Linked DNA regions of Homo sapiens: region 2 is linked to region 1. The links come from fine-mapping of genetic effects on gene expression. Tissue or cell type: whole blood. Region 1 holds a variant in brackets; the other region holds the start of a gene. All regions are shown on one strand. Distances are between the middles of the regions.

What was found. PIP is the estimated chance that this variant, and not a neighbour inherited with it, causes the effect. A credible set is the group of variants that fine-mapping cannot tell apart.
Region 2: CRYBG2 starts here. The variant in region 1 is the best candidate, but not a certain one, in a credible set for the expression of CRYBG2 in whole blood (INTERVAL, PIP 0.61).

Annotation. Positions count from the first base shown.
Region 1 is chr1:26,206,196-26,208,876 of GRCh38, reverse strand. No RefSeq gene overlaps it. Among named protein-coding and RNA genes, the nearest start is that of CATSPER4, 17 kb to the right of the region's middle. The variant C/A (reference allele first, on the strand shown) is at 1,389.
Region 2 is chr1:26,352,671-26,355,351 of GRCh38, reverse strand. It overlaps CRYBG2 (crystallin beta-gamma domain containing 2), which reads left to right and starts at 1,222. Exons shown (of 20, transcript NM_001039775.4): 1 at 1,222-1,316.

The DNA.
Region 1 (2,681 bases):
TATAATGTAGTGGGTGTTGATTTACATACATATGTAAATCTTACCAGCTCACATTTATGTGCCAGCTCTGTGCCAATAGATTTCAACAGATGTATACCAGGGAGAGAGAATTTTACTTGTGCAGGTAACTATGTCTCATTCCACTCAATGGCTACTCTAGACAGTGCAAGTCAGTAAAAGACAGAAATCTGTTATCTCAATTGGTGTTTGATTTCTTGATGCCTTGTTTGATATTAGTTTCCTACTGCATTGAATATGATTCTAGTATTTAAAGATACGATTTTTTTCTTTTTTGAGACAGAATCTCGCTCTGTCACCCAGGCTGGAGTGCAATGGTGTAATCTCAGCTCACTGCAACCTCAGCTTCCCGGGTTCAAGCCATTTTCTTGCCTCAGACTCCTGAGCAGCTGGGACTACAGACATGAGCCACCATGCCTGGCTAATTTTTGTATTTTTAGTAGAGACAGGGTTTTACCATGTTGCCCAGGCTGGTCTCAAACTCCTGACCTCAAGTGATCTGCTTGTCTCAGCCTCCCAAAGTGCTGGGATTACAGGGATGAGCCACTGTGCCCGGCCTAAAGATATGAATTTTTTGAACAATATGACCCCTAACTGCAAGCCGAGTGTTTCATTGAGTGTCATAGCAGTCAAGGATCATTTTGATATTGTTCAAGTGTCACCCTGCCCAGGTAAGGTGCTGCTCCAATGCACAGGCACATTAAATCCTTACAACCAACCTGTAGAAAAGGACTATTATTTCCATTTATCAAATGAAGAAACTGAGGATCAGACAGGTGAAGACATCTGTCCAAGGTCACACAGCCAGGAAGTGGTGCCACTGCATTTGAAACAAAGTCCATCAGACACCAGAACCCAATGCCTTCCCTACCACACTGCACTGCCTTACAAAAACACAGCTTTATTCTCATGGTTGAGCCAGCTGCTCTCTCTAGAAAGGCCCAAATCAATTATGTTGGGCTGGATTCCTTGGAAACCTTCTTCTTTCCCCTGGGTAATGGGCAGAAATAGGCCCATCACCTGATGTGCTGTTTTTGCATTCTTGGCAGTTTTCTTTCTTTCTTTCTTTCTTTCTTTCTTTTTTTTTTTTTTGAGACAGCCTCACTCTGTCACCGAGGCTGGAGTGCAGTGGCGTCATGTTGGCTCACTGCAACCTCTGCATCCTGGGTTCAAGTGATTCTCCTGCCTCGGCCTCCCAAGTAGCTGGGACAACAGGCGCATGCCACCGTGCCCTGCTAATTTTTGTGTTTTTAGTAGAGATGGGTTTTTGCCATGTTGGCCAGGCTGGTCTCGAACTCCTGGCCTCAAATGATCCACCCGCCTCAGCCTCTCGAAGTGCTTGGATTATAGCCGTGAGCCACCGTGTCCAG[C/A]CTCTTGGCAGTTTTCAAAAGGCTAACTCAGAAAATTGGAGGCTGGCCAGGCATGGTGGCTCACGCCTGTAATCCCAGGATTTTGGGAGGCTGAGATGGGAGGATCACCTGAGGTCAGGAGTTCGAGACCAGCCTGACCAACATGGTGAAACCTCGTCTTTACAAAACACACAAAATTAGCCAGGCGTGGTGGCACACACCTGTAATCCCAGCTACTTGGAAGGCTGAGATAGGAGAATCGCTTGAACCCGGGAGGCACAGGTTGCAATGAGCCAAGATCATGCCATTGCACTCCAGCCTGGGCAACAAGAGCAAAACTCAAAAAAAAAAAAAAAAAGGAAAAGAAAAGAAAAGAAAAAAAACTGGAAGTGACCCAGCCCAGGTGGCAGGCTCATTCTTTGTCCTTCCCATCGCCTAATTCTGAAGATGCACCAACCCTTCTTTTCTGGCACCATCCACACCCTCACTTTTTTTTTAGAGACAGAGTCTCAGTTGCCCAGGCTGTAGTGCCGTGGTGCAATCATGGCTCACTGCAGCCTCAAACTCCTGGGCTCAAGTGATCCTCTTGCCTCAGCCTCCTGAGTAGCTGGGACTACAAGTGCGCACCACCACACTCGACTAACATTTTTCTTTTTATTATTTATTTATTTATTTGAGATGGAGTCTCACTCTGTCACCAGGCTGGAGTGCAGTGGCGTGATCTCAGCTCACTGCAACCTCTGCCTTCTGGGTTCAAACAATTCTCCTGCCTCAGCCTCCCGAGTAGCTGGGACTACAGGCGCACCACATTGCACACACATTGCACCACACCCAGTTGATTTTTTTTTTCCTCACTCTGTCACCAGGCTGGAGTGCAGTGGCACAATCTCAGCTCACTGCAACCTCCACCTCCTGGGTTCAAGTGATTCTCCTGCCTTAGCCTCCCGAGTAGCTGGGACTATAGGCGCATGCCACCACGCCCAGCTGATTTTTTTCTTTTCTTTCTTTCTTTCTTTCTTTCTTTCTTTTTAAAGACAGATTCTCACTCTGTTGCCAGGCTGGAGTAAAGTGGCACAATCTCAGTTCACTAAAACCTCCACCTCCCGGGTTCAAGTGATTCTCTTGCCTCAGCCTCCTGAGTAGCTGGGACTACAGGCGCGTGCCACCACGCCCAGCTAATTTATTTTTTATTTTTTTAGTAGAGACAGGGTTTCTCCATGTTGGCCAGGATGGTCTTGATCTCTTGACCTCATGACCTGCCCCCCTCAGCCTCCCAAAGTGCTGGGATTACAGGCGTGAACCACTGCACCCAGC
Region 2 (2,681 bases), 150 kb before region 1:
CCCTTATATCCCAGGTACATCCTCCCAGGTGTTCTGTCTCAAGCTGGGAGGGTACAAGAGAGGTGGCCGCAGTCTCTCTGTTAGCTTGGAATGGGCAGAGGCCATGGGCACTTGAGGCAGGCCTTCCCACCCAGCCCTCAGCCCCAGGGCGGGGAAGCACCTCAGGACTGCAAGGAAGCTGAGATCTCCAGCCTTTGGGGGGCATGGCCGGCCAGGCCCTGGGTGCCTTGTCACCTGGGAGGGAGTGCGGCACCTGAGCGTTGGGAGCCCTCGCTGGCTTGCTGTGTGATCTCAGTCATGTCGCCGTCTTCTTTGGGCCCCACTTTCCTCTTACGTAGAATGGGAAGGGGTGAGTTAAATGCTGAAGGGCCTTCCCAGAGCTCTGTCCCTTTGTCCAGCTCTGGTGGCCTTAGCAGCCTCTCCCTAGGGCAGCTTACCTTGGTGTCAGAGCCCTGTTCAGCTTCCTTGTGACAGGGAAGATACCAGGTACCAGGGGTGCCTGGAGGGCAGGGGGAGCTGTCACTATGCCCCTGCCTCTCTCAGTGTCTATCTCTGTTTTCACCCAGGCCCAAGGCCAGAGCTGCTCAGAATGGGACATCCATGTAGGGGACCATGATGATTTCTGGATTTGGAAGCAACAAGGAATCTCGGGGGGTCCTGCTCAGTCCCTGGGGCGCCTACAGAGGCCAGCGGTGGGCAGCGCCTTCGACCTGGCCAGCCATGCCTCCCTGGGGCCTGAGAGCCTGGCCCTGGAAGTGGCCTCAGGAGAGTCTGCTCGTACCAGGCTCCCCCAATACCCAGGGCCTGCTCCTGGACATGGGGAGCAGGGATCCTCAGGCTGCACCTGTCAGCAGTCTCCACCCACAGCTTCAGAGGTCCCTCTGAGGCCTGAGCCACCCAGCAACCTGGAAGACGCACCCCTGCTGCTCCACCCTGCATCCTTCCCCAGGGCAGAGGGGACAAAGGGCAAGCCCGCCACCCCAGGGACTGCCTTGCCAGAGCCTGCCCAGACCCTACACACGCGTCCCTCTTCCAGGAGGACCCGCTACTACATCACTGTCACCCTGCTGGGGCACAGGCAAGCACCAGGGGAGGAGGGTGAAGAACCGGCCCAACCAGCTCCACACCTCTGCGGCCCTGAGGAATCTGAGGGCTGGTGGGAGCCTCCCCAGGGGCCACGCCCCATCACAGGGTGCCGGACGGCCCCGCCTCAGGAACCCCAGCTGAGAGCCCAATCGCATCAGGGGAGCACGGCCCAGCAGCAGGAGCTCCAGGCTGGCTGGACACCTGGGTCCCCACGCAGACTGTGAGTAGAGGTCGGTCTGTGTGTGGAGATGGGAGGGGAGACTGGCCTGGCTGCCCTGTCTTGAGACTTTGCCTATTCCCTGGGCCTCTCCAGCTCTAGGCCCATTCATTCAGGACCCTGAGCCGACTCTGCCTTCCCTCCCTGCTCCAACCCTGCCTTCCTCTCCCTCCCTTTGCCCACAGGCTACCTCCTGGAACCCACTGCTTCTCACCCCCACTGTCCATCTGAGAAAGGGGAAAGTCTGTCAGGGAGAGGATGGGCAGGAAGGGGGGTTGCCTTCTTCACAGCATACACCACTCCCCAGTTCTGTTCAGGAGGCCACAGACTCAGCCTGGGAATTGGCACCCAGCCTAGGTGCTGGGTGTCCTGAGGCGAGTTGCTTAACCTCTCTGGGCCTTGAGTTGTTGAGAGGATTTGGTAGCTGAAAATGAGGAAGGAGGAGGTGGCTACAGGAATATACTTTGAACTCCAGAGACTGGGGGTGCCAAAATAGCAGGGATGCTTATTAATTACGTCTCAGTGACAGCAATAATTACCCCACCTGGCTCTGAGCTGGAAGCCAAAGGAGTGGGTGTCGAGTTTCCCAAGCCTAGTTTTATTTGTGTTGAAATGACTCTCCTAAATCTGCCTGGGGGGCGCAGAGGTGGAAGGATATGTCCCCCAAAGCTCATCAAGGAGGGATGAACATGGAACCTCCCAGGGATGACCCTGAAGAGGAAATGAGCCTGGGGTGGGGTTTTGAAGGGTGCTTAAGGATGATGGGGTGGCTGTCATTTGCAATTTGTTTTCTAAGCATAATTTTATTTAATCTTCCCAACCATCCCATGAGTAGGGACTGATCCCAACCCCTGTCACCTAATTCTAGGAGGCTCTGAAAGTCACTTGCTCAAAGTCAACTAGAAAGTGAAGGGGCTAGAATCTGAACTTAGGTTTCTATAACTCCAGTGCCTGTGCTCTAACCACTGCTCCATCCTGCCTGGAAGAAACCTCTTTGGCCCTGTGCAGAGAGTGGAGGGTTGAGTGAGGTTGCTGTGTGGGCTCCAGGGTTTTCTAGGCTCCTATGGCGGTGGATTGGGCAGCATTGTAGTAGCAGAGGCAGAATCAGGAATGCTGGGGTCCTCCAAGCAGGGGTCAATGTGACTGCTTCCGTGCCAAGGAAGAGGGAGATGTAGGACCCAGGCTGGCTCTGAGACCTGCTTGGATGCCCCAGAAGTCAGGGGCTGGGGGACAAGGGCTGCAGAGAGAGGGAAGGGGGGTGGAGGAGGCTACCTTGGAGAGGGGGACGGGAAAGAGAAGTAGGGTTAGCTGGGGGGAGGTGGTTTCTATCTGCCACTACCTGGGTATTTTGGGCCCAGGTGGATAATGACAGACTCAG